Regions from separate parts of the Homo sapiens genome. Here all the other regions are reported to be linked to region 1. Evidence: microRNA targets listed by miRTarBase, many of them from high-throughput screens and not tested one by one. Region 1 holds a microRNA gene; each other region holds the end of a gene's coding sequence.

The links. The annotated mature microRNA hsa-miR-1-3p reads UGGAAUGUAAAGAAGUAUGUAU and lies in region 1 at 3,693-3,714, shown strand. An mRNA with a match to its seed (bases 2 to 7 or 8) in the 3' UTR can be bound and repressed. Matches are read on the target gene's strand: a 7mer-m8 pairs with bases 2 to 8, a 7mer-A1 pairs with bases 2 to 7 and ends in A, and an 8mer does both.
Region 2: miRTarBase lists IPO9 as a target of hsa-miR-1-3p. Seed matches in the 3' UTR shown: 7mer-A1 at 4,440-4,446 and 7mer-A1 at 6,452-6,458.
Region 3: miRTarBase lists TH as a target of hsa-miR-1-3p. The part of its 3' UTR that is shown has no 7-base or 8-base seed match.
Region 4: miRTarBase lists PLEKHB2 as a target of hsa-miR-1-3p. Seed matches in the 3' UTR shown: 7mer-A1 at 4,356-4,362 and 7mer-A1 at 3,050-3,056.

Annotation. Positions count from the first base shown.
Region 1 is chr20:62,550,659-62,558,923 of GRCh38, forward strand. It overlaps MIR1-1 (microRNA 1-1), which reads left to right and starts at 3,648; the gene lies at 3,648-3,718. MIR1-1HG (MIR1-1 host gene) reads left to right here. Exons shown (of 4, transcript NR_171007.1): 1 at 1-380; 2 at 2,807-3,007. CRMA (cardiomyocyte maturation associated lncRNA) reads right to left here and starts at 903. Exons shown (of 7, transcript NR_033263.1): 1 at 768-903. RefSeq lists enhancers at 1-757, 6,062-6,933, 7,804-8,265.
Region 2 is chr1:201,873,028-201,881,292 of GRCh38, forward strand. IPO9 (importin 9) reads left to right here. Exons shown (of 24, transcript NM_018085.5): 21 at 1,223-1,345; 22 at 1,805-1,909; 23 at 2,125-2,201; 24 at 2,917-8,265. The coding sequence ends at 3,027. Among named protein-coding and RNA genes, the nearest start is that of SHISA4, 12 kb to the right of the region's middle.
Region 3 is chr11:2,161,456-2,164,929 of GRCh38, forward strand. TH (tyrosine hydroxylase) reads right to left here. Exons shown (of 13, transcript NM_000360.4): 13 at 2,474-2,937. The coding sequence ends at 2,778. Among named protein-coding and RNA genes, the nearest start is that of INS-IGF2, 2.0 kb to the left of the region's middle.
Region 4 is chr2:131,143,089-131,151,353 of GRCh38, reverse strand. It overlaps PLEKHB2 (pleckstrin homology domain containing B2), which reads right to left. Exons shown (of 8, transcript NM_001100623.2): 8 at 1,509-4,717. The coding sequence ends at 4,581. Among named protein-coding and RNA genes, the nearest start is that of PLEKHB2, 42 kb to the right of the region's middle.

The DNA.
Region 1 (8,265 bases):
CGGAGGAGGCCGGGGCTCAAGGTGTGCAGCTCGGCCGCCTCTCCCTAACTCTGCACCAGCGCCTTCTCTCTCTCTCTCTCTCTCTCTCTCTCTCTCTCTCTCTCTCAAGATCTCCCTCCTGCTAAGTCTGCGCTGCTGCAGGAGGGCTGGGGGAAGGGCAGGGGTGTGGAGAGGGGGTGCCTGGTGTCTTCTTTCTCTCTCTGCCCCCACCAAGTGCGGACGCATCGAGCTTCGGCCCCCACCCCTGCATTCGCGATTGGCTCCCGGAGGAGGTGGCTGGTGCTGCCGCCGCTGCAGCATCTCCTAGGGAGCCGCGACCCTGCGCCCGCCGCCGCTGCCGCTGTCACCAGCCCGGCCCCAGGGGTGCCCTGGGCTCCGCGGTGAGTCCTGCTCAGCCCATCACCACCGCTGGGCCGCCGGGACGGCCCCTGCAAACTTGCCGGGCACCGCGGTGGGGGGTGTGCCTGCCAGCGAGGTGGGTGCTGCGGGTGCCGGCGCCGTGCGGCTCCGGCGGGGGTGCCGTGGAGTTTTCTCTTGGCTCGCGGCATCATCCACATTTGGAAAACTGCAGAGCCAGCAGCCGGCAGGGCCTGGAGGGCGCGTCCAGCTGGGAGGCAGGAACTTTGACTTGCGGGCATTTTGCAAGAAAGCAGCGGCCCCCCACGCGGGCAGTGGATGGCATGGGGGCTTCGGGGCTGGGCTGGGGGCGCGATTCACCTGCCGCTCCGCAACAAAGCCCCGGCAGCCGGGCGTGGGGCTAAACTTACCTTGAACTTGCAGTATCCCCCACTGAGGTGCTGGTGGGGGGCAGGGATTCCCGAGCTGAGCGGCGGCGAGGCTGCCCCCGGCCGGGACTCGGCACTTCTGCAGCTCTCCCAGCCACGTCAGGGTCAGGAGGCGTTTACAGGGGCAGGGCGGCGAGGTGGGGGGCGGGGGGCACATGTGGGCGGAGACTAGGGGGGCTTCGGGGAGAGCAGCCCTGGTGGTCGGCGTCTGTGCAGGTCCCTGCTGGGGAGCTTGACTTCCCGCGTGGCCTCCCGCGGCGCTGATGCCGGGGGCCGGGCGGTATTCACCGCTGAAGAGCCCCGGAGGAGGCCCCGGGCACAGGAGCCAGCTCGGCTCACGGTGGGGTCTGCTTGGAGGCGGCTGGGTGCTCTTTTTCTATGCAGACGGGAAACTTTTTGAAAAGTGACTACAATTCATTTGTGAGTGGGCAGAAGTCCTGTGGACTCTGGCTGGGTCTGGGGTGACTCTCCTGCCCTTTGGGACTCCCAGCTTTCCCCTTGACCCCCAGACCCCGTCCAGATGAATGCCTCACAGGTCGTGGGGGCTTGAGCCAGGCTGCGGGAGTGTCCCAGGCTCTGAGAGCTCATGTGCCAGGGAGCTGGGGACGTTGAGGAGGCCTTTTCCCTGGACTCCGGGGACGGTTATTGCGGAGGTCTTGGGAGGGCACAGATGAGCGGCGGAACCCAGGTGCCCCCGAAGTTGAAGCTCAGGCTGCGGTGTCGGGTGCCCTTTTTGTATCCTTGGCTACGTGAAAATGATAAATCACAGCAGCTACGTGGAAATGGGACATCAGCTTCTGCTTCTGTCTGCCATTTGCTCCTTCCTTTGTAGAGGGGATGCCTCCAGAGCCTTAAGCACAACCCCCACCCCCCGCCCCCACCCACCCCCACGTGAAACTCCAACCCAGCCATGCCCAGCTGCAGACCCACTGCCACACAGCCACAGCATGCTCAGTGGCCTCTGCACACTGCAGGCTCTGCGGAGACATTGCCCTGCCCTGGGTGGTAAGAGAGAACCAACTCGCTCCGGGCTGTCCCCTCGCATGGACGGGCTGCCTGGAGGAGCAACAGAGTCATGTTGGACCTCTCTTCCTGATGAGGACAACGGGAGGTCCTTTCATGTCCCGGGGCTGCTGTCCCACCCCACGCCAGGGTCAGTGGCAGGACAGGGGCCAGGGCCCAGCTGGACCCCACCGCTTAGCAAGCCTCCTGTGTCTGTGCCCGGCCTGCACCCCCAACTGGCGCCTCCCTGGCCCCCGTCCCCCCCAGGCACCTGCAAAGCCTTCTTTCCACCTCTCACCACCGCACGTGCCAGGCTCGCCCTGGGCCACTGCGAGGCCTCGAAACCCTGCAGGCCTCCTCCTCCTCCTCCTCCTCCTCTCCCCGCTCCCAGCAGGTTCGGGGCGGCTTCCCTTCCTGCTGGTGAGGGCCTAACCTTGAGGTCCCATTGGTCTCCTTCTGGCTCTTTCTCCACATTTTTCAGAGTCTGGCTTCACGGCTGGTCATAGAAGTTGGCAGGGAAGGAGGCAGCCTCTGCTTCCCACTCAGAGACATTTTTAAACGCAATGAAAAACATATCGATACAATTAAGTATTCCAAAGTGCTTAGTTTGCCACTCGCTAAGTTTACTTAAACCCTCTTTAACAGGCTCATTAGGAGCTGGTGAGCACCGGGAAATTCATTAACAGGAAGGCGGCCCCCTGCATTTGACTGTAAATTGGTATTGATCAGGGGCTGGTGGAGGCTGGGCGGCTGGCCACAAAGAGCCAGGTGTGGGACCAGCCTCCCGGGGGTGCCACGGCAGTGGCGCTGGGCAGGTGACGGTGGCTGCTGACCCCCGGTGCCCATGTAAGCTGCTGGCTCTGCGCAGCTGCCGCTTCAGGTGGGCCGCACTGCGCGGCGGTTCAGGGTGGTGACGCTGCGAGGCGGGGACGGGGGAGAGGGTGAAGAAGAGCGAGAGAAGGAGGGAGAGAACCGGGGGAGCGACGCTCCCTCGCCCACTGGGTGTCTGCTGTGGCCAGGCTGAGGCACCTAGGGAGTTGCCCCCCTAGTGGACGGCCTCTCAGGAGATCCTGACCACCCTCTGGGAACCTGGACTCCTCCAAGCATCGTCTTTCTCGCCTGCATCTTCGGAGAGAGGTGCTGAGCCCTTCCTCATGGATACGGGGTCCCGGGAGGCAGCCTTCACCAGGGACCTGCCCAGGAAACCAGCAGATGCCCAGGTAAGCCCCCAGGACACCTCTCGGGTCTCTGGTCTGCAGTTCCTCGTCTGGCCTCAGGAGCAAGGAGTTGTCCAGCTCCCGGAGAAGGAGGAGGCTGGTCCTGCGAGTGGGGTGCTGGGCAGGGCGCCCCCCAAGGTTCCTCTCTCCACCCAGCCCTCTCTGGGCTTGGCTGGGATGAGGTGACCCAGGGGGACAGGAAAGTGTTGGCTTTGAAAGTTTGGGACATGGATGATGCCTCCCTGCTCTGGGGTGAGGGTGGAGGGGCAGCCTGTCTCTTCCATGGACGCAAAACCGAGCTACTGCTGGGGCCAGGGACAGGCGCTCGAGACTTTCTGGGGCTCACTGTCCACTTCTGCCTTTCTGGATCGTGTGAGTGTGTGAGACAGACAGAGAGAGATGGATTCAGGGATGGAGGGGCGCCGAGGTCAGAAGGGGGCAGGGAGTCCTGGGCCCCTGGGGGTGGCTGGACACCAGGCAGCAGTGGCAGGAAGGCTGTCCTGCTCACACAGAGAGGGCTCCGGCAGTAGACTCCAGGGAAGAAGTTACACTGCCTCTGAGCTGCCTTCTCTACATCGCAGTGGGGTCAGCTTCTACCGGGGCGGCGTCCCGGGGTCTTGGAACTGCATGCAGACTGCCTGCTTGGGAAACATACTTCTTTATATGCCCATATGGACCTGCTAAGCTATGGAATGTAAAGAAGTATGTATCTCAGGCCGGGACCTCTCTCGCCGCACTGAGGGGCACTCCACACCACGGGGGCCGCCGCGGCCGACAGCCAGCCAGGCGGCTGTGGTGGGGGTGAGGCTGGGGCGGCAGGCTGCCTGGGCGTTGGTGGACGGTCGTGTCCCCGCCAGCATTGTTCTGTCACTTTGCCTGTGTCAGCAGGTGGAAGTGCTCACCAGACATTAAATATTCAGCTTGCTGACTGCGGCAGAGGGGAGGCGGCCTCCGGCAGGCGCGGGGTCCAGCGCGGGGCTGGTGAGGGCTGGGGGGTCGGGGCCGTGGCTGGAAAGCACGGAGTGGTGGCGGCGGCTCTGGGGGCTCCACTGATGGCCATCCTGGAAGAGGCCATCAGCCGGCAGAAAGGGCCACGTGTGGCCAGGGCAGAAACTGCTCAGAGGCACAAGACAAGAGCGAGTTTGGAAAAGGGCAGGTGGCTGGATGCAGAAAGGAGGGAGAGGCTGGGCAGCACATGGTAGAGTCTGCGGAGGGAAGGCACCTCCTGCACCTGCATCCAGCCCTCCCGGCTGTAGGGCAAGGCAGAGGAACTCGGAGGCATGTAGCCTCCAAGGAAGGCGCAGCCCACACGAGATGCTGGGGACGCGGGCAGGGTCAGGGCCACCACTGCCCTTAGGCCCCACTCCTCTGCCGAGGGCACCTGGGACAGGGTCAGAGGAGCTGAGTCTGTGCAGCCCTGAACCCACAGCCCACCCCAGGGGCCTGGGAGCCGTTCGATTTTGCCAAATGTCTGGTTCATGCCGCCCCAACCTGTACCCCCACCAAAGCCCCGGTTCAGCTTTCTCTCTGTTCCGCCGAATCCAACCTGAGGCATGTTTTGCTGTGAATGCAGGTGAGGCTTTGGCAGAAAGCAGCGTGTGGCCCAGGGCCCCTTGCCCCACCTGTCGGGGGCCTGAGAGCCATCTGCTCTGCCGCCATCCCAGTCCTGACCCGAGAAAGGACTGGGAGGATGTCCTGGGGCCCAGGGGATGAGGGCAGGTCCGGATCCGTCCGTGAAACCCTTTTCCCCAGTGCTGGTCCTTCAAGGAGAGGATGGGCGGCGGGTTCTGGGGTCTTAGGCAGCGGCTGGGCTGCTGTGTGAGGGGCGTTTGCCCGGCTCGTTTCTGAGTCTCAGATTGGAGGCGTTTGCCACCTGGGATGAGGCCAGGTCCCTGCCTGGGCACCCCCACCCTGCCACAGGCCTCAGGATTAATTTCTGGGGTGTGTGTCCTCTCTGCCTTGGCACTGCTCCAGCCACAGCGGTGCCCCTGTGCCCTACCTCCCGCACCCTGGCCTTCGGCAGGAATGAGGCGGGAAGGGACAGGCAGGCAGCCCCCTCCTGCAGCGGCTGGAGGCCTTGGGTCTGGGGGCAGCCAGGTCACCTGAGCAGCTGGGGCCAGCATAGGGAGCGCTGGATAAAGGGATTGGGGGCCGTTCTGAGCTTTCAGGTGGCTCCCACCCCTCAGGGAGCCTCGAGGTGACTGGAGGGGAGGGCCTGGCAGTCAGGGCTCCTGGCCTTCAGGTCTTCCTTCTGGAAACTTCGTTCTCCCAGCCTCAGCCCCATCTGGCGTAGCAGCAAGGGGGCGGGTGTTGACCTCGGGCACAGCCTCCTCTCGGCCTCTGGACCCGGAGGGTCAGTGCCCAGCATCCGCTGACGTCATCTCTTCCCTGCCTGCTCCCAGCTCCGGCCACAGGGAGGGAAGTAGCCGGGCGTGTGGCCACCGAGGCTGCCGGTGGCCACAGACACACCGTTCTTTTCCCCTAGATGCGGCTGTTGTACATTAAAGCTTTATTGCAGGATGTGGTGTTTAAATAAAAGCATTAGTGTTTTGGAATTAGGTTTGACTGAGCAGTAAAACTGGAGAGTTCACAGGGAGAGAGCTGCGGCCTGCTTGGCGGTAAATCACCTCCAGTCTCTGATCTGCTGAATTAAAAATGAGCATTGCACGGACACCGCCCATGGCAGCCCGAGCCCCTCTCCCCTGCACGTGTGGCCTGATGGTGCTCCCTGGGGATCCTGCTGCTTTCCTGGAGACACTGGGACCCGGGGCTGGAGTCTCCCATGCGTGAATCTCTAAAGCTTGGCTCCCGGGCAGCAGCCAGGACGGGAACCCCAAACTGGCGTGGGGCATGGACACGCTGGGACTTTCCCCTGTGGGGGTCTTTGTGCCTGTCCGTTTGAAGGAGGGGAGAGCAGGCAGGGCGGGGGCACAGACCCTCACTGGCTATGTCTTGCCCGCAGGGACTCTCCTGAGACGGCTTAGGCACGCTACCATGGGGGCCGGGACTCTCAGAGGGAAATGAGCCTGGACTGGGCTGAGGGGGCTGGACATGGGACACCCACCCCCTCGCCTGCCAGCTCGGGAACCCAGGTGGGTTTGTGTGGCCATGAGGAGGTGGCCAGTGCCGGTGTCTCTCACTCCCTAGAGCAGGTAGCACCAGGTGTAGGCTTCTGGGTTTCCCAGAACACTCTGGAAACTGCCCCACGGTGATCAGAGGCTGGGCCAGGCTCCCGCTCGTGGAAACAGCCGCTGCAGAAATTGTGGAGCTCATAAATTCAGCGGACCAAATTAGTTACCTTTTTCTATCCTATGGCTCACAAAAGCTAGCTATGCTCCAGGCACTGTTTCCACCCGTGAGTGAGACCGGCTCTGGGTCCTGGAGCTTGCACGCAGGAGAAGGACGGTCTTTGGGAAGGGACGGCCCCGCTGCTGTGCCTGCACGCGTGTGTCACGATGAGTGGTCTTGCATTTCTGCAGCCAGGGGGCCGAGGACATAGTGGCACCCCCTTCTAAAGAGGGGGCCTTTGGTGATTCTGGCTTAGTAGTGCATTCAAGTGCAATACAGTGTTTTATTGCACAAGCATTCAAAGCAGGCGCAGCGGCTGGTGAGAGCATTCGCGAGAGGTGCGTCGGCAGTCTCTGTGAAACTGTCGGGCTCACATGGGGAACGTTGCGTCGAAGAATAAACTGCTATCAAGCATGATTAGATTGACCCACAGGACAGATATTTTAGATGCCGCAGCCGGAGTCAATCAAAATGAACATCACTCGAATTGCAAATTTTACCCAAAAAATGCTCTAAAGTAAAAATGAGAGAACCTGAGTGGCCCGAGCCATCTTCAGGGCCAGGGCGTGGCTGGGCAGTGCTGGCCTGAAGGGTTTCTGGGCAGGGATGGCCAGAGGTGGGCGGGGCGGTGCAATGCCGTGAGTCGCTGCCACCTTCGCATGAAGGGTAACCCAGCAACCTGAGGGATTTTGTGCTGACTCAGCCCCGCCGTGCACGTCCGACTGCAGAGGCCTCCCGTGCTCTCTGCAGCCCTGCTCCTGCCTTTGATGCCCCCGGGCAGGATGCTGACCTCGGGGTGGCTGGGCTTGGGCCCCAGCAAGGGAGGCTCTTGGACAGGAGCACAGGGCTTTGTGAGGGGCCCTGGCCTTGCCCACTGTCCTTGGCCAACCAGCAGCCTCTGTCCCTGTGAACTGGAGGCATCGCACCCAGGAAGAGCTGGGCATGGCTTTTGGGAAGGGAAGGCACCCGCAGACAGTATCAGCAGCTCCCAGAGCCTCGTGCTGTCTGCTCCTTCCTGAGGTCCCAGGCCCAGCTGGCCAGAGCTTGGGGCTGGGAGGGCCCTCCCCGGAGGCCCCTGGGTGCCCAGGGAGGACTCTGCCTTTGGGGAGGACTCTGCCTTTAGTGCTCAGAGTCCCCAGCCGGCTCTGACCCCTGGAAGCCCGTCCTGCTGAGTGGGGAGGGGCGGTGACTGCAGCAGAGGAGTGGGGCAGGCTGCTGCCGAGCTGCCGCCTGGGATGCTGCAGAACACCGCAGGAAGCATGCAGGGCTGCGCGTCTCAAGGGCAGGGATCAGAGGGCCACCTCTGGCAGCTCCACCGCTGGCTCCCTTAGATAGAGGGACACAGGGCCGAGGTTCCCACACAGCGGTCACTGCAAAGGCACTGTGAGCTCGACTGATTCACCCAGGTTTCAGAGGCACCACTAAGCCTCAGGCCAGGTCTGCTCCCTGCACCAGGCGGGCTGCCCCATTGGGGTGCAAGTGTGTGATGCTGAAGGACAGAGATGCTGGGGGGGACACTGGGCCTCTCAGGCCTCCTGTGTCTACCCCAGGGAGAGAACATGGGAGAAAGAGCCCTGTTTCAGGAGTGCTGGGTGCAGAGGTCACTGGCTGCTCCCTGGCCAGGAGGTGGTCACCCAGAAGCCTTGGCGGTGGGAGACTGGGGTCCACTCCTCACAGGGTCGAGCGACTCCTTGGCTGGGACTGGAGGCAGGTGTGTGTGTGTGTGTGTGTTTGCATGGGCATGCACGGAGGACGATTTCTGGGATGACTGGGACAATGACCCAGAATATTTTTAACAGCGGCAGGAGAGGGGGTAGAAGGCAGCTGTCCCTGGAACCTGTCCCCGGGGGGCCCCGTGGGGATGTTTTGAGGTTGAAGGACGCCCAGGACAGTTGCACCGTGTGGCGCTTGTTGTCCTGGCAAGCCGATGCCCTCTGTCATGCCCAGATATGGCTCCAGGGCTGCATGTGTCT
Region 2 (8,265 bases), not on the chromosome of region 1:
GGAAGGAATGCACTGTGGTGTATATTTTTAAAACAATTGTTGGTGATGGGTTTGATAAAGAAGAAGCAGGAAACTTAGGTAAAAGGGATCAGAACATACGGTTTCTTCCTGTTGTGGAAAATGGACAAAAATAGGCCGGGCATGGTGGCTCACGCCTGTAATCCCAGCACTTGGTGGGAGGCCAGAGCGGATGGATCACTTGAAGTCAGGAGTTTGAGACTAGCCTGACCAACATGGTGAAATCCCGTCTTTACTAAAAATACAAAAATTAGCCAGGCATGGTGGTGGGCGCCTGTAATCCCAGCTACTTGGGAGGCTGAGGCAGGAGAATCGCTTGAACCTGGGAGGCAGAGGTTGCGGTGAGCAAAGATCGTGCCACTGCATTCCAGCCTGGACAACAAAATGAGACTCCGTCTCAAAAAAAAAAAAAAAAAAAAAATGCAGGCGTGGTGGCTCACACCTGTAATCCCAGCACTTTGGGAGGCCGAGGTGGGTGGATCGCCTGAGGCCGGGAGTTCGAGACCAGCCTGACCAACATAGAGAAACCCCGTCTCTACCAAAAATACAAAGTTAGCCAGGCATGGTGGCGCATGCCTGTAATCCCAGCTACTCGGGAGGCTGAGGCAGGAGAATCGCTTGAACCCGGGAGGTGGAGGTTGCAGTGAGCCAAGATCACGCCATTGCACTCCAGCCTGGGCAATAAGAGCAAAACTCTGTCTGAAGAAAAAAAAAAGACAAAAATAGTCTCAGGCACCAAGCATCCCAGCTTCCAGCTTCATTCAGAAGCGTGGGCACAGATAGTCAGCATGTCTTTGTTACTGAGTTGCCTTTGGCCTGTAACTCCAATGATTTGCAGGTAGGGAGTATAGAGCTGCTATCTTTAATGTAGATTTATAATTACCTCCGCTGTCTCTCAAATTCTAAGTCATTGGGACTGGAGTACTGGCTCTATACAGTTCCTTGGTTTCAGAGCTTTATTACTAACAAGACTGTATCTCCTTTAATCCCTGAACTCTCATCTCTCCCAGCTTCTGAACTGTTACAATACCAAACAATAAAGTTATTTAACTTTAAGTCACTCTTTGGAGACTGGATATAGTCAGGTACAGTGAAAGTCTGAGGGGTGGTGAACTCTGGTGAGTGGCACTGAGGAGAGGACAGGGGTACTTCCAGAAGTAAGCTCAGTGACACTCTGACTTGAAACCTTTTTCTTCCTTCCCAGACCCAGAACGCTGGACAAACATTCCTTTGCTGGTCAAGATCCTAAAGCTGATCATCAACGAGCTCTCCAACGTCATGGAGGCTAATGCCGCTCGCCAGGCCACTCCTGCAGAGTGGAGTCAAGGTGCACCAGGCCCTTACTCCCAGGAGACTTTTAGCCTGGCAGATCAAGTTACAAATTGTCAAATTATCAACTTGGTTTGTTGAGTCACTAATTGAAAAAAAAAGTTGATGGAATGGCTGCTCTGTGGCTGGCACCATGCTAGGCACTAGGCATGTAGAGCTGCTTCTCCAGTCTGCCATATGAAATCTCACAGAGGCTGGGGTGGGAGGCAGCCAGGAGGCAAGCTAACATAGCCCTTCTTTGGTTTGATTCTTCTTAAGAGCCTGTCAACACTTATATCTCCAGGTTCTTTCATTGAGACTAACCAGGAGGGTTTGGCCATTTCTGATTCTCTTTCACTGGGGACTACAAGCCACATTGCAGAAGCCTTTGGGGCCCTTCTATTCTGGCCTATTTGGATTTGGGGAGGGAAAATGCATGAATGTGCTCTAGCTCTAGCTGCTTTTCATCTCCAAGTAGATGACTCCAATGATATGTGGGAGGACCAGGAGGAGGAAGAGGAGGAGGAGGAGGATGGTTTAGCTGGCCAACTTTTATCTGACATTCTTGCTACAAGTAAATATGGTAAGCTGTTTGATAAGAGGACAGCCATGGTAAATACCTTTTCTTTGCACACTGATCCCAACAGTGGGGTACCCAAGAAAGGGGAGAGGTGGGCCCACAGGGACATTTCTTGGGCTTTTGCACCTTCCGCCTCAGTCATGTGGTAGTATATCACCACTCAGGGCCTGATCATGGGCCTTTGTCCTGACCCGCCCTGTGTTGGCTATGTCTAACAGAGGAGGATTACTACGAGGATGATGAGGAAGATGACCCTGATGCCCTGAAGGATCCTCTCTATCAGATTGATCTGCAGGTGAGGGTGTCCAGAGATATCTTGCAAATGACAATGTCCCAGGCCATGGAAACAGGAATATGGGCTCAAATCCATTTATAGCCAGGCATGGTGGCTCATGCCTGTAATCCCAACACTTTGGGAGGTCAAGGCGGGAGGATTGCTTAAGCCCAGGAGTTCAAGACCAGTCTGAGCAATGCAGGGACACCCTGTCTCTACAAATAATTTAAAAATTATCTGGGCATAGTGGCACACCCCCGTGGTCCCAGCTACTCGGGAGGCTGAGGTGGGAGGATCGCTTGAGGCCAAGAGGTCAAGGCTGCAGTGAGCTGTGATCATACCACTGCACTCGAGCCTGGGCGACAAAGCAAGACCCTGTGTTCAAAAAAAAAAAAAAATCCATTTATAATTTAACATGGGAGCCTCATGGGAAAGAGTTCCTGTCTTGTTGAGTGGTCCAGGGTTTTGGGTGGGCTGGAACTTTGCACTTGATGTGTTGTAATTCATCTTCTAGAGGCTATGTTGTGAAGGTCCTTGGGGTGATACAGCCTTGGAAAAATGTTGTTTCCCTGTGGATTACCTAAACTAGATCCAAGAACATGAAAGACCATCCCTCAGGGAGCTGGCATTTGTCTAAAAACCAGCATTCCCTGTGCCATTTGATTGTGGTTCTTGCTCCACTGCAAATGGGTGACTTGCAATGTCTCACTAATGCCACTCTTGCTCTTTCCTCCAGGCATATCTCACAGATTTCCTCTGCCAGTTTGCTCAGCAGCCCTGCTACATAATGTTTTCAGGCCACCTTAATGACAATGAGAGGCGAGTTCTACAGACCATCGGCATCTAAAAAGGGGAGCCTTTCTACATTTGCTCCTTCTGGGCCAGCCGCAAACCATTTTGCAGCCCTCACTGGCCTTGAGATGCACTTTCTTCTCAACCTAAAGTGGCATCTTGACCCTTGGCCCTTGGCCTCGGCAGTGACACTGATGACAATTCAGACCAGGCTCACCGGTGCCGTCACTTAGGAATGCTGGAACAAAGGACATTTCTCAAAGTTCCCCTGAAGACATGCCATCTCTAGAACCTTTTTTCTCCCCGACTCTACCCCCACCTCTGTTCCTAGAGCCCTCTGCTGGCGAGTCCAGAAACATTATTGCCCAGAAGGATTATGTGTTTATGGATTATTTTGCCCCGCCTCAGGAGCGCAGGAAGTCACTACCATTTATATTCTAAAACAGACCTATCTATGTTCATAGGACTTCTGATGTGTTCAGATAGGAATCCTCATGAGAGATCATTATGCTTTGTGCCCTGGACCACTGCTGCTCTGGGTTCTCAGGAGGAACAGGCAAGAGCAGCTTCATTCTAAGCCTTTCCAGTGACCTCAGCCTTGCTTCTCTTCTACAACACTAAGGCTCCTCTGTCAGAGGAGGTCGTCTTGTTTTTGCTTCATTGCATGACATAACCCTTCCCCTCAAGCTGTTCCTATATATACATGCACACACAAAATAAGCCAGACAGATGGCAATTTGATCTTCCTTTTTTAGAAAAAAAAAAAAAAATGGGGAAAAGGGATTTTTTTTAAATCCACCTGACCCAACTATATTTAATATGCCTCTCCCACACATTACCACAGAGTCTGATATTCAAAGGTTATCCCCTTTCCCTCAGGAAGCCTCTAAAGTGCTTAAGTTGTAGCCCTCAAATTTGCAACATGTATTTTTCTAGGACAGTAAAGTAATCTTTACAAATGAATTTAGTTGCATGGTATAAGGTGTCTCAGCACCTGTTTGCCTTCTATTCCCTTTAGAAGGTAAGTAAAAGTAATGGGGGAAAGGATTAGGTGGAGCCTGTCTAAACATTCTAGTGTGTCTTGGCAAACATAGCCTGAAATGATTCTTAAAGAACTGGCATTGTTTAATCAAATATTTTTAAGGGAGATTCCTTAATTGGGAAGTTTAGTCTGTTTGGGGTTCAAAGAGTAAATGAGGATTAGAAAATCATGGAGAGAGGCTGGGCGCGGTGGCTAACGCCTGTAATCCTAGCACTTTGGGAGGCTGAGATGGGCGGATCACTTGAGATCAGGAGTTTGAGGCTAGCCTGGCCAACACAGTGAAACCTGCATTTCTACTAAAAATACAAAAATTAGCTGGGCATGGTGGTGCATGCCTGTAATCCCAGTTAACTTGAGATGCTGAGGCAGGAGAATCGCTTGAACTTGGGAAGCAGAGGTTGCAGTGAACCGATATCACACCGTTGCATTCCAAGGCAAGACTCAATCACACACACACACACACACACACACAAATCATGGGGAGAAAGATGAAACCTGTGTTCCCCTTTTTTTGGTAGTGCCCACATCTGGTGCCCCATTTTTAATAACCACAGGATATTTCTTTAGATTGATATTCTCACAAAGAAGAAATAGAATATAGGCTGGGCGTGGTGTGTCACACCTGTAATCCCAGCACTTACGGAGGCCGAAGCCAGCGGATCACCAGAGGTCAGGAGTTCGAGACCAGCCTGACCAACATGATGAAACCCTGTCTCTACTAAAAATACAAAAATTAGCCAGGCATGGTGGCATGCACTTGTAATCCCAGCTACTCGGGAGGCTGAGACAGGAGAATCGCTTGAACCTGGGAGGCAGAGGTTGCAGTAAGCCAAGATCGCACCATTGCACTACAGCCTGGGCAACAAGAGGAGCGAAACTCTGTCTCAAAAAAAAAAAAGAGAAAGAATATAAAGTGAATCTGAATCTCCACTCAAGGGGATGGCCCCAAGGATATTGTAGCTGGTAATTTCTTCATGCCACTAGGTGTCCCCAGTGTTCAACCTCCATGACTGAGATTGGAAGAAGTAGAGTTAAAAGTTTTTACTACCTTTGAGAAGCCTGCGGGCATGTTCACAGTCGTCCCATGCCAGCCAGGTTCTGAGGCTAACTGCTTGTGCCCCTGCTGCTTCACATGGCATTGTGGGAGTTGCTGATACTGGGGAAATGATGGCAGATCTGACCAAGTGGTGCTGAGAAAACCACCCTCGGCCTTGCAGACTCCATAGTTTATCTCAAGGCAGTGCCAGTCGGATTTGGTGCTAAAGGCATAAGGCCAAGTCAGCCTCTGATATTGGCACAAAAGAATGGTCTCATGCCAGTAGCATTGAACTGCTGAGCTTGGGAAGGCTTAAGGCTCCCACACACAGACTGAGAATGATGGGGGTCCCTCTGCGTCTGCTAATTAGACAAACATTCTATATCTAGTGCCAAAAGTGGTCCTAAATCCTTTGGCAAGGGTCCTTTCTGCTCTCATGCTGATTTGGGGGAGGACTGGGCATCCTGCCTCAGGAGAACTTGAGTCCTGAGGAAAGGGCCCTAGTAACACTTAAGGGCTACCCCTGGCTAACAGATACTCGGCTGTGGGTGAGAGCAGAAGGTCTTGGACCCCTCGATGTGCAGGTACTTAATTGTGTTTCCAGTGCATTTTCATATACATTATCCCATTTAACCTTTATAACAGGTTCACAGAGTGGATATTCCCATTCTGTTGATGAGAAAAAGAGTGGAGAGACTGTGTCCAGTGTCAGCAGGAAGAAAAAAGATCTGTTGGAGGCCAGTACATGTTGACAGAAACTCTAGACCATATTTTGTCTCCTGTCTTTGGCCAAAGAGAACTAGCTTCAGTCTGAAAAGGGCAGGGCTAAGTGGTTACAAGGAACTAAAAAGTTCAAGGTAAGACAAATGAGGTAAAAATAAAAAAGAGCACTTAGCTGCTCTGAGACATTTTAGTCTCCTGACTGGTAAACAGCAGCTGGGGCACCAAGGGGCTCCCAGGAGTTTGTCGAGCTTTTATTGGAGTGAACTGAAAGGAAAATGGAAGGAATGCTATAAGACTGAAAAGAAGTTAAAGCCCTAGGAAGGAAGCTGATAACACAAGTTACAGACGTATATGTGACATTGATTTGGGAGAATGAACCTACAACAAATGACCCAAAAGCACCTAAATAAGAGTGACGAGAGTTTAACAGACATTCATTATGGACTTCAGAGAAAATGATGCTAAACTGGTCTTAGAATCTTCTTTAATTTTGTTAACTAGGTAAATAATCTGGACATTTTAGTCAAAGCATTAGACAGACAGAGAAGTTGGTAACTGACCACTAACTAACAAACTATAAATTCACCCATTGTGGGTTGACCTGGTAAGTTCCCCCAGGGCTGTGTCCTTGGCCCCTCCTTTGATATTAGTGACAGATGACTTTTTTTATGCCTTACCCATTCCACAAAAGAATTTGAAGCCATTTACACAAGAGATAGTACTAGTAAATTAGGAGTGCTGATCAAATTTTTAGATAATAAGAAACCCTTAGGAAGGATGACAATTTAGAATCCAAATTTAGGATCCAAACAAATACCATTACAAACTATAAAAATGAGCAGAATCTAAATGTAACATTTCAATAAATGCAGATTGATAATAACATCTGTGCAGAGTTGAGGACTATAGAGTACTGTGCTGTCACTAACAGTATTGTGTGCTACTAAGAGTTTAATGGCTGGGTGTGGTGGCTCACACCTGTAATCCCAACACTTTGGGAGGCCTAGGTGGGTAAATCAGCTGAGATCAGGAGTTCGAGACCAGCCTGGCCAATGTGGTGAAACCCCGCCTCTACTAAAAATAAAAAAATTAGCTGGGCATGGTGGCACGTGCCTGTAATCCCAGCTACTCGGGAGGCTGAGGCGGGAGAATCACTTGAACCTGGGAGACAGAGGTTGCAGTGAGTCGAGATCACACCATTGCACTCCAGCCTGGGCAACAGAGCAAGATTCTGTCTCAAAAAATAAAGTTTATTATGCCAGGAGGGCCAGGTGTGGTGCCACACCCATGTAATCCCAGCACTTTAGGAGGCTGAGGAGGGCAGATCACTTAAGCCCAAGAGTTTGAGACCAGTCTGGGCAATGTGGCAATACCTTGTCTCTTAAAATTTAAAATAAAAAAAAAGTTTATTATGCCAGGAACTGTTAATGTGTCCAAAAAAACTCCAGTGTGGTTCTAGGATGAGATAATAAAAACAGGTTGTCTAGGGTAGTGTGGAAGGTCCTTTCAGTCTTCCTGTGCCTATCAGTGATCCTCATTGCCATGTTCCCTTCTGGTGCTCAACCGGAGGCTCCCTGACAGATGAGTCCTCTGCCAGAGGAAGGCTAAGATGTAGAGGACAAATCGTGTCAAGGAAAAGAAGCTTGAAGGAGCTAAGAATGCTTAGCTTAGAGAAGACAAGAGGAAACAGGACATGGCTTTGGGAAGTTCAAGGATGGTCCAGTGAAATACATACTATACTTTTGCACCCCAGCTAAGCTGACCCATGATCAGTAAGTAGGAAATAAAAGGCCAATTTCTGGCTACTCTTGCCCCCAACCCCATTTCAGTGAACTATGAACCTCTATTAGATATGCAAGGCCGGTGCTAAATGCTGGAGGGCTTTGGCCCTTTCCCTCAAGGAGCTAGTCTAGTAGGGGGTCAGAAATACAGATGGGCCTGAACATAATGATGGTTTGACTTCCAGTTTTTCAACTTTAGGATTGTGCAAAAGCTATACACATTCGGTAGAAACAGTACTTCAAGTATCCATACAATCAGTACAGTATTCAATAAATTACATGAGACATTCAACACTTTATTATAAAATAGGCTTTGTGTTAGATGAGTTTGCCCAACTGTAAGCTAATGTAAGTGATCTGAGTAGGTTTAAGGTAGCCTAGGTGTATTAAATGCATTTTTCACTTAACGGTATTTTCAACTTTTGTTGGGTTTATTGGGATGTAGCCCCATTATAAGCTGAAAAGCATCTGTAGTATAATAAATGTGGGGAGTGCTGTGAGAGAAATAAGTGTACTGGGTTTAGTTCCCACTGCCCAAAAAAGGAACTGGCTAATGGTAACCTGGGGGAGGAAGTCGGGTAAGTTGCATGGAGAAGGCAACCCTTGAACACTTGCAAGGAGCTAACAATACCTGCTTCTGGAGTATTTAAACGCCAGTGGGTATGCTAAATACTTTTACCTCAGACCACCTACTAACCTTACAAAGTAGTC
Region 3 (3,474 bases), not on the chromosome of region 1:
GTCCCTGCTCACAGCTGGGGGCAAATGTCTCCAGGAGAGCAAAGCCCTCACCTGGGCCACTTTCCACATTAGACCAGGAGAGCTGGAGGCTGCAGGGCGGGGCTCTTTGCGCTGCTGTCCCCAGACCCCTGTCCCCACACCCCTGTCCCCACACCCCTGTCCCCACACCCCTATCCCCACACCCCTGTCCCCAGGACCCCTGTCCCCACACCCCTGTCCCCAGACCCCTGTCCCCACACCCCTGTCCCCACACCCCTGTCCCCACACCCCTGTCCCCCGGACCCCTGTCCCCAGACCCCTGTCCCCACACCCCTGTCCCCACACCCCTGTCCCCACACCCCTGTCCCCACACCCCTGTCCTCAGACCCCTGTCCCCAGACCCCTGTCCCCAGGACCCCTGTCCCCACACCCCTGTCCCCACACCCCTGTCCCCACACCCCTGTCCCCAGGACCCCTGTCCCCAGACCCCTGTCCCCAGGACCCCTGTCCCCACACCCCTGTCCCCAGGACCCCTGTCCCCAGTCCCGGATGGCCCAAGATGCCGCCATGGATGGGCCAAGGTGGTGGGGGTGGGAGAGTGGGAGTGAGGGAGGGGTCCCCTCCCTGCTGGCTGCCTAGTTCCCACCCTGCCTTAGGACAGCAGCCCCAGCTGAGGCCCTCAGCTCCCCAGGGTGGCAGAAGGAGGGCATGACCTGGGGACCTGGGGACAAGCAGCAAGTCCTCAGCAGGCCACTCGGACCTCATCTTCCGTGTGATCTGGGGGTGGCGGCAGGACTCTGGGGGTGGGCAGGTGTGGGAAGCTGTGCACTGGCCCAGCTCCGTCCTGGCCCCCCAGGCACCCTCTCAGCCCCCACTCCTCTTCTGGGAGCCCATCTCCCCTCTCCTGGCCAGGTCCCATGACACCATCACCCCCATAGTGTCATCTGGGCTGAGCCCCTGGGGTACACCCCTCCGGCCCTCCCAGCTCCCCAGAACAGGCACCTGGAGGTCCAGCCTGACCCATGGTGAGGGGGCATGGGCTCCGAGCCCTGCTGCCTGCAGCCCCTACCTGCCTCTTAGCACCAGGGGCAGGATCAGGAGGTCCCAGAAGCAGGAGGATGAGACCATGGGGGCAGGCAGGTTGGAGTATCCTGTGCCCCGGCCCCTCGCATCCCTATGTCCCACCCTGGCCTCAGCCTCGGAACCTCTCGGGGCCGCTCTGCACACACCCAGCCTTTGGCTCTCCTGCCCCGAGCGGGTTTGGTAGTGGGCACCAGCTATCTGCAGGACCCCTCCCTTCCGCCCTTTCCACCCTGAGCCATGCCACAGCAGGACATGCGGTGGCTGCCCCAGGACGCCACAGTGCTCTGAGGCCCGGCAGCTGGAGAGGACATGGGTGCCTCCTTGAGAGGAGTGTGTAGGGAGGGAGGCTGGATGGGGGGAGCCCAGGTAGGAGGGCAGAGCCAGGCGCTGGCAGGGCCGGGGGGAGGCAAGGCAGGCACTTCCCCAGGGCTTCCTGGGGGCTCACAGCCCTTCAGAGACACCCCCAGCTGCAACCTCAGGGGCTGGGCACTAACAAGGTGTGTGAGGAACAGACTGCCAGGCTGGGAAGGACCACCATGCCCAGGAGGGCCTTCGTGGATGAGTAGGAGTTTGCCAGTGTTGTCGGCCGGGGAGCTGAGATCCAGGATCCCAGCAGCGTGTAGTGGGGTGGCTGGAGGGAGGCAGAGACCTTGAAGGCCAGCTGGTGTCCCAGCACCCCCTGCAGGATGCCCTGGGGCTGCTCTCTCCAAGGTAGGAAGGGGACACCCTGGCCGGTCAAGCCTGGAGGGTGTTGGGTGCTCTCTCTGGAGGGCAATGTCCAGGCCCCTCGAGTAAGCCAGGGGCATCTTACAGAGTCTGAAATCCAGCCCCCATCCTGCCTCGCTGGGGAGACAGGCCCAGACCATCTGCCTGGGCACCAGCTCAGCCAGACCCTCCCCATCAGCACACATGCTGGGGGCCACACTGAGGTTCCCCTTGGTTCGCAGGGCCTGCTCCGGGTGGGTGAGGGCATCAGGGCAGCTGTTCCTCCATCCCTGTTTCTCTCAAGGGCTGGGAGCCCTGTCAGCAGGGAGGGTTAGGCCTGCAGGCCCACCTCTGAGACCACCCCCAGCCAGCACAGTTTGTGACCCCTGCTCCCTGCCAGGCCTGAGAGAGGCCCTCCCACTGTCACGTGGCTCCCCACCTTGGGAGGGCACCCCACGGAGATGGGGCAGCTCGGCCAGGGTGCCCGAGCCTCTGGAGCTGCTTGGGGCTCAGAGCTGGGCGGGGCCTCAGGGTGAGCGGGGAAACCAGGCCCGGAGGGGCCAGCTGCCTGGCCAGGGCGGCCAGCCATCTCCCAGAGGAGGAAGGAGGCCAGGGCGAAACCTCTGAGTGAGGCTGGGGTGGGGGTGTGGGAGTCTGAGGATCCCAGGGTCTGTCTCTGTGGCACAGATGTGGGGCCAGGCAGGTGTAGAGACCACAGTTTCTTTTATTGTGACGGTGATTGGGGCAGCAGACAGTGTCAGGGAAGGGCGGAGGGCAGTGCAGCAGCCCCCAGGACCCTGGGAGCCAGGACAGGACCTCACCACAGGCAGCACAACCTCACCACGGGCACACACAGCTGTTGCGCTGAGAAGCAGGTGCAGGGGCAGTGGGAGCCTGGCAGCAGGGAGGGCATGGGGGGCACCCGGGACCCAGCCCCTCACCAGGGCCTGAGCTCCGGGACAGTGCAGGACCAGGGGAGGTTGGGAAGGGCCCTCAGGGACGCCGTGCACCTAGCCAATGGCACTCAGCGCATGGGCAAGGGTGTCCAGCTCATCCTGGACACCCTCCAGGGAGCGCCGCACGGCCTGGGGGCTGTCCAGCACGTCGATGGCCAGCGTGTACGGGTCGAACTTCACGGAGAAGGGGCGCTGGATGCGTGAGGCATAGCTCCTGGGGAGGAGAGCGGCAGAGCCCTCGTCAACTGGCGGGCAGAGTCTGCAGCCTCCAGGAGAGGGGAGGCCAGGGGCCGCGTTTCCACCTTCACAGTGGCTCAGAGCTCCCAGGGCTTTTCTGAGCCAACTGGTCACAGGCGGGACACTGAGGCCTCTTCCAGGGCTGGGTGAGGGGGTTCATGGGGGAGATAGGCTAGGCGCCTTTTCCACTAGAGACTGCCGGGCACCCCATCCCTCCCTGAACCTCCACTGGGCCTCCTCCAGGAAGCTTTCCTTGACCATATCCCTAAGCCTGTGGGTGGAATTCAGCACCCCTGTCCGCTGGACACATAGCCCCTGGCCTCAGTTTCCCCAGTGCATAAGAGGCTGGAGGGAAAATGATGAGACCTTTTATGAGGATGAGGCTAGAGGGCTTTGCTCCCCTCTCCTGACACTCTGGTCACTGCACCAAAGGCCCCCAGCCCTGGGGACCCCACTCCCGCCCTGTCCCCCACCTTGACTCTGTCTATCCCCCTGACTTCTCCCCATCCCAGGG
Region 4 (8,265 bases), not on the chromosome of region 1:
ACCACCCGCTAGGCTTGGACTCTGTTCCTCCGGTGGGCAAGATGGCATGGGCAGGCTCTCAGCACCAGGCAGGAACTTATAGGCCGCTCACAGGGAAGGGGGAGCAGGACAACCAGGGGCAATAACGCAGTCATCCTCAGCATGACTGTAATGTAATAAAGGACAAATGGATGGAGGAACTATATTCCTTGCTGGAAAGGGTGAATATCTTCTCTAGGCCCATCCACAACAGTTGGTAAGTGGGGAAAGAAACGATTTAACAGCAACGAAAATATCAGTGACCAAATGACATTTGTGTTGTGTGAACTAACAATTTGCTTGTAATTTGCAACCACTGGCTTTATTAATCAGTAAAAACTGTACAAAGTAAATACAAACCCAACTTCCACCGAGAATTGGCGATACTTGATGATCATGATCTGTCATTAACTACGGCCTGTTATCAGCAGCTGAGGCGAGGGCCATTTCTTCCTGGGTTCAGACGATACTTCCCAGACCTCAAGCACTGAGCCCAGGCCACATGATTAGCCCTCACCACTGGAAGGGGAGCGCCACTCCAGAGCTGAGGATGGGTGTGTCTTCACTGTCTTTTCTTCCAGCAGGTTGTATAAGTTCCCACAGCAGATTCCAAGGCAAAGAGATAAAAGCAGTTTTGGTCCCTGAATGACAGCCTGGAGCAGAAGCCTCTCATCCCTTATGAACCCACAATGGACTGCGACTTGAACAAGAAATAGAGCTTTTCGGTCGAGCGTGGTGGCTCACTCCTGTAATCCCAATACTTTGGGAGGCCAAGGCGGGCGGATCATGAGGTCGGGAGATTGAGACCAGCCTGGCTAACATGGTGAAACCCCATCTCTACTAAAAATACAAAAAATTAGCCAGGTGTGGTGGCGGGCACCTGTAATCCCAGCTACTTGGGAGGCTGAGGCAGAAGAATGGCGTGAACCCAGGAGGCAGAGCTTGCAATGAGCCGAGATGACGCCACTGCACTCCAGCATGGGCAACAGAGTGAGACTCCGTCTCTAAATAAATAAATAAATAAATAAATAAATAAATAAAACAAAAAAGTCATATATCCAAAGATGCTGGAGAAGTTATTGGACACACACTGCCAGAGGGATCTGGTTGGGAAAAATAGTGTCCGTTTTCTCACAGCCATCCCAAGAGTGTGACTGCACGGGCCACTGCTGTTTGTGGAAATCAAATTCTCATATGCACACGGCACAGGGAACAACAAGGCGTTTTAACATCAGATGTGGAGACCTACTACCTGCACGCTCCTGAGTAAATTATTTAACTTCTGAGCCTCGGTCCCTCCAGTGGAACTTGGATAATACCTCCCTTACAGAGTCACTAAGAATTCAGTGAGTTGTCTCTAATGTGACAATATACTAGCATTTGGTAGGTCCTCAATAAATGGCATTCTTATGATCCAGGACAGCAGAAAAAGCTGAGAGTATGTTACTACAAAGTAATTTTTTAAAGACAACAGAAGTCACAATGAAACATGCTTTAAGGTTAATGCTTTAATGTATTGACATTTTCACTTACAAATGTACAATTTGCGTATGTAGGAAAAAATCAGTTCTCTAGACACAACAGAATACTACTAGAGACGGGAAAGCAATCACAAAAAGATCAACTCTGGGGAGAAAGTGGAACTGCATTCCATGCCTTGTATCTACATACACTAGGGAAGGAAAAAGAAATATTACACAGGATCAAAACTTGTGGAAAATACACTTGGGTCATTTTGTCTCAACTGCAGGACCTTCTTATGATCCAGATGGCTACCTTAAGTCCTGGATAGCCTAAAATGGGCAAAGTCTGGCCTTGTTCACAAATGATGATCCAAAACATTAACCACAGTTCTCCTTCTCTTTAGTATCCAAGACCCTGAAGTTGACTCAAGGAATGAAAAGAACAATCAGATCAGCATGTATATAATATCATTGGCCAACTTCTTCAAGGTATGGATTATTTAAAAGTACACATGGAAGTAAAATGCTTACTCAAACCTGAATAAGAAGTTTCTTGTAACTCAAGCACTTCTTGACTCACACTAAGTGTAGCACTGTAAACAAAAGACATCGTTGAGAAACTGAGGCTATCAAAACATTGGCATCTATGGGAGTTGTGGCCAAGGAAATAAAATACCTGAGCAACCTTATACCCAGTATGCATTTCATACCAGGATCAAGTCACTAATGACAGCCAAGTTCCAGGCTTATCTATGGCTGCCTAATGAGACTGGCCCCACTAGGATGGGGACTGGGGAGGGGACACACATGAGTGCCCAAGCTTCAGTCTACACCTCCCCCCTTCAGCCAGAAGCAGCCAGGGGAGCACAGGGACATCTGCTTCAAGAGCATTTTGGCAGCAAAAATCAATACTCTGTGGTTCCTGGAATTCCCACCCAGTAATTCCAAGTTCAAAATTACCACCAGTGCAACATGAAAAACTGTTAATAGTTTTTAAGTAAAGTGTACATACAGCTTTAATAACGATTATAATCTGAAGAAAGCCATTCTTCTTATACAGGATGGAAAATCCTCAAAGCAACATTTTAAACCATGGACACTAGAGTTGTCATACATCTATTCAGAGATGAGAGATAAACAGACATCCTTCCATGTGGAAACAGACACTCCCATGTCAACAAGTCCCCTAGGATCAGAGAGAAAAGCAGACCCGTGGTCATCACTAGGTGTCTCTGGTGTCTCGCTAAAGATGGAGTCCTATGTAGGTTGGCCTAAGTTGGCCTCAGAGGGAGGTGGCTGAGCAGCAAAGCAAGACAGCATGTGTGTAACCAGCCAGGCAAAATAACAAGTCTGTGCTACCTGGAGTGTATTTTCAGGAAAACAGGACCATATGGAGTGTGGGGCAGGGACATTCGCTGTGCTAAACTGCCACTGTAAAAGCACACTGTTGAAAGCATGCAGGACAGAAAACTGCAATAATTCAGAGCTTGAAAACAAGAAATAACAGAAATATGAATATTTCAAATACACACTTCATATACTGAAAATAAGAGCATTTGAAGAAAGGCTGGAATGGGTTTTCCAAAGACTCACACATTTTGGGGTTCCAAATTCAATGTTCTAAGCTTCTCTATCACAAAGAGATCAAGAACAAAAGCAAAGCTGGGGGTCCTGGCCAGGCTGAGTGGTACCTTGAGCCGGTCCCTGTGTCCTGAGGGTCCCTGGGCCCCATATCCCATCCATAACCCAAGTCTGCTCAGCTACAGTCTGCCCTGGTGCTCAGTGAACAGCCACAGAGTCCCACTTCTGCACAGGATGGGCCTTCAGAGTGATGAGAGAGCATCTCCCGCACAGTGCAAACCCCCAAAGGCCAGAAATGGGAACGCTCTAACTAAGGCTCTCCTTCCACTCCCTCACTGTTCCTTTAATATTACTCTCTCAGCAAGTAGAAAAATAGGCTATAAGGAGGCTTAGGCAGACACACACTCAAACAGCCTCTTGGAATAAAGCAAATCTGCCTCCACATACTTGTTTGTATATTGTTCTGGCTTCTCCAGGATTTTTTTTTTTTTTTTGAGACAGAGTCTCACTCTGTCACCCAGGCTGAAGTGCAGTGGCACTATCTTGGCTCACTGCAAGCTCCGCCTCCTGGGTTCACACTATTCTCCTGCCTCAGCCTCCCGAGTAGCTGGGACCACAGGCGCCTGCCACCACGCCCAGCTAATTTTTTGTATTTTTAGTAGAGATGGGGTTTCACCGTGTTAGCCAGGATGGTCTCGATCTCCTGACCTCGTGATCCGCCCGCCTCGGTCTCTCAAAGTGCTGGGATTACAGGCGTGAGCCACCGCGCCCAGCCAGCTTCTCCAAGTTTTAAAGGATTAAAGCCCTCAAACTCTCAGGCTTAAATCAATTCCTAATGTGGGATATGTTCTCCAAGTATGCCTACCAAAGCCATACAAGAATAAAGTGAGCAGCAGCAGCAGCTAGGGTCAGGCAGATTTCTGAAGCATGATTGTTCAAAGGCGGGCTGTGCCCCATCATCCTGAGCCATCGGCCTTGCCAGGGGCCTGTGGAGCCCCAGAGGGCAGGACGGGGGCTCTCACACCATAGCCTCGGGAAGTACCTGGGAGCTTACCAACCCACAACTCCTAAAGTAACATGCAACCAGTTCTGGTCTGTGGTTTGAAAAAGTTAAACGCAAAGAAGCTGTAGCTTTTCTTGCCACAATCACTCAATAGGCATACAACACTATATTACTGGCATAACATGAAAATAAATTAACCCTTAAGCACTACACCTAACTCTAAAAAGAAAATGCCTTTCAAAACAGGTATGCTCAAATAAGGTATTCTGAGAGTTGCACAAGAACAGTCTTGGAATGAGCCAGTGCCCCCGGAGAGTCAACATTTGAACAAAATAGCACAGTTCAAACCCTTCTCTGTGGTACTTATGTGGATTAGTACAATTATGACATCACTACTTTCAAAGGAATGATTAAAACTATTATTAAAAACTTTTGTCACAAACAGAAATGCCCTGCAAATCATATTATTGCACACAGGGTTATCAGAAGCTATGCACATCAAGACCTTGAGGCCCCTAGAAGACCCAAAATAGAGACCCTAAGGCCATGCCCGTGGCTGCTCCTGCCAGCATGCCCAGTGCCAGGTCGCTGTCGTTGTCTCGATAGCGCTCTCGAATGATGACTTGGTTAGCAGGCTGCTGTCCATAAAGTCCTAAAAGAGAAGGAAAATAGCAGATTTCTGAGCAGCGGTTTGTGAAGTTTAACATCACGCAAAGTACCAGTTCTCCTTTCACAAAAGGGATCTGCTGTCTCCTGTCACACTGGCGACCCAGCCCTCCTCCACAACAGGCACATCATGTGGCCGACATCCCTGAAACCGCACACTGGGAGGAAACCAAGATCCTCAGCTCACTAAGGGCCAAAGTCCCTAATCTGCAAAAAGCAGAACCCTAATGAAGCTTTCAGATTCTAGCCTCTGATTTCTACTTCAGCCCTCGACACCATGCTTATTGGGTGGCAGACAAATGGGGAACATGGGAGACACACAGTGCCCAACAAAAGCCCAAAAAGGAAATGCTCACTTAAAGCAAATGAGCTTCTTAGTATGCACGCAAACCAATTTTTAAATTAAGCCTTAAATCTGCACATATAACTTTTTTTTTTTTTTGAGAAGGAGTCTTGCTCTGTCCCCAGGCTGGAGTGCAGTGGCATGATCTCAGCTCACTGCAACTTCCACCGCCCAGGTTCAAGCTATTCTCCCACCTCAGTTTCCTGAGTAACTGGGACTATAGGCGCCCACCACCACGCCTGGCTAATTTTTTGTATTTTTAGTAGAGACGGGGTTTCACCGTGTTAGCCAGGATGGTCTCGATCTCCTGACCTCGTAATCCACCCGCGTCGGCCTCCCAAAGTGCTGAGATTACAGGCATGAGCCACCACGCCCGGCCCGGCCTACTCTTTTTTACTGCATGTCTTTATAGAGAAAAAATAAATATTTATGTTAGAGGTGAAAACTTCAAAAAAACAAACCACAGACAAATTTAGTATTTAATTTGCAAGATTAAAATTTACAACTGGAAATATACTGTTTGCTCTCTTCCATGCTTCACAGCTATAATGCCTAGTAGCTAAGTAGCTTTCAAACTGCTCAGGTATTAATAGCGTTAACTTTCCTCCTTGATCCTCTATTCCTTTAATGGTTCAAAGGCTGGCTGGCCAGGCTTGATGGCTCACACCTGTAATGCCAGCACTTTGGGAGGCTGAGGCAGGTGGATCACTTGAGGCCGGAAGTTTTAGACCAGCCTGGCCAACACAGTGAAACCCTGTCTCTTAAAAAATTACCAAAAAAAAATTAGCCAGGGGTAGTGGCGCATGCCTGTAATCCCATACTGAGGCATGAAAATTGCTTGAACCTGGGAGGCGGGGGCTGCAGTGAGTTGAGATCCTGTCACTGCAATCCAGTCTGGGCAACAGAGTGCAACTCTGTCTCAAACACACAAAAAAAGAAAAGAAAAAAAACTAGTCACTAGTGATGTGCACATGTGGATGAAGAGCAGAAGTGAAACCCGCAGTGGTAACAAAGGTGAACATTTCCAGCCACTTACAGCACTACATACATTGGAATGCTCTTACTCAACTGAGTGCACTTTTATCCCTATTTTGCAGATGGGCAAACTGAGGCACACAGCAGTTAAGGACAGTAAGGGCACACAAACCCAGGCACTCTGGCTACAGTATGCATTTATACCCACTAATGCCTCAAATACAACAGAGGATGATGAATGACAAAACTCAAAAGGCACAGAGTAGTACAATGAAACCATCGTAAATCTAAGGGCTGATCTGGTACAGGTAACAGTACTGGAAGCAAGTGATTATTTTTGCAATGTTTAAATTTCAAAACTAGGGAATTACGGCATTTACTTTCACAGCCCTGACATTTTAAAATGCTCAGTAATGTTAACTCCAACTAGCCAAATGTAACACAATAGAACTTGTGAGCTGACCTAATGAAAAGGTCCCATGGAAAATCTACATTCTGATGCCCCTGCAAGTCATGCTGAGGTCCCCTGGCTGCAGGACCAGGCCACTCTCTTGTGGCTCCTGCTGAGCTCTGCTCCTGCATTGAGCTCAGTCCTTGCCAGAGTCAGCTGTGGATGCTTCCAGGTCACACTTATTATAATTGCCTAATTTAACTAATATTACATAAATGGTCAAAATGTGAATGAGAAAAAGGCAGACACAGTTTCTATGGCAACTAAGATACTACAGGAAAAACTAAATAAAGGAAGGTTACTTTTACAAATTACCATCAAATCAGGGAATTAAGAAAACTATAAAAGATGGGAGGATGGGAGGACTATAGTCCCCAAATCTAGAAGTCTGCTCTTGGACTTACCCCTGGAAACTGCAGTGCAATGACGTGTCATGAGGATGGTCTCTACAAGACAGAAATAGAAGACTCCAACCAAAGGAGCCAACTCAAAGCAAACACCTCAACCCCACATTATAGGAGAGCCGAACGAACACCCACTAGCGGGTTAAATCACAGCACAATGTTTACAATACGTCTACAGTACTCTGTACTTTCTCAATTGGCTGACCAACCACTGGTCCCAATCACACTGAAGAGAGAGCCTTAACCAGCTCTGTGCATGACTAGGAGGGTTCTTGTGGACTAGCTCTAGGCAGTGAGACCCTGGCAGACAGGATGGCATGGAGGTGGCAAAGCACCCATCTGGTTGTCAACACAAGCTGCTGTGTATCGACCACAAACCCATTTGACCCTTCCACAGCAAGCAAGTCTGGGGGCTGCCTGGTCACCACTCTGAGGCAGGCTGGCCATAATGCCTACTGACTCAGCCCCTTATGTGGGCGGCAAGCATTCCGAGTACTGCCTGTGAGAGTGCTACTTCTACTCTACTGACGAGAGCCAAGGGCAAGGATGGACTCATTTCCAGAAGTGCCCTAAACAACCACGTCTGCAATATCTGTGCTCTCTATACAGTAAGAAACAGCGGCAACAGCCCTATTCTGTGGGCTGGAAGCTGAGAAAGAGGCTGGCTCTCATGTGGCAAGGCTAGGGCTTAAAACTCTCCATCCCATGGGATCCCAACAGAAAAATGTGCAAAGGAAAATTATTCATAAAAGGTGATATAAACTAAAGCAACTCGATGATTCCACTTGAGACCTACTGAAGCTATCAAAACTTTTAGAGCACAACAGGCCATCTTTATGGGATCACAGATAAACCACTGCATCAGTAACTGCTAGTGGCATTATAAGTTGGTAAACCATTCTGGGATCAACTTGGCAAAATGCTATCCAGATTTAATGTAATATTAACAGATGAAATGATTAAAAATCTGGGATGTCCCTTAAACTAATCCAGAGGTAGAGAAAGGAGGCTGAGGTAGAGATAAAAGATTAGACATGATATGGTTAACTGCTGAAGCCAGTGATGGACATATGATAGTTCATTATACCATCATCCCTATTTTTTATGTTTGAAAACGTTTACATTTTTAAATCATATCCCAAAAAACCGTCAAAAATGTCTATGCCTTCTGACATGTTAACAGAGATGCTCCTCAACTTACAATGGGGTTACCTCCCAATAAACCCATCATAAGTTGAAAACATCATAGTCAAAATGCATTTAATACGCCTAACCTACCGAACATCATAGCTTAGCATAGCCTACCTTCAACTGCTCAGAGCACTAACATTAGTCTGCAGCTGGGAAAATCAACTAACACA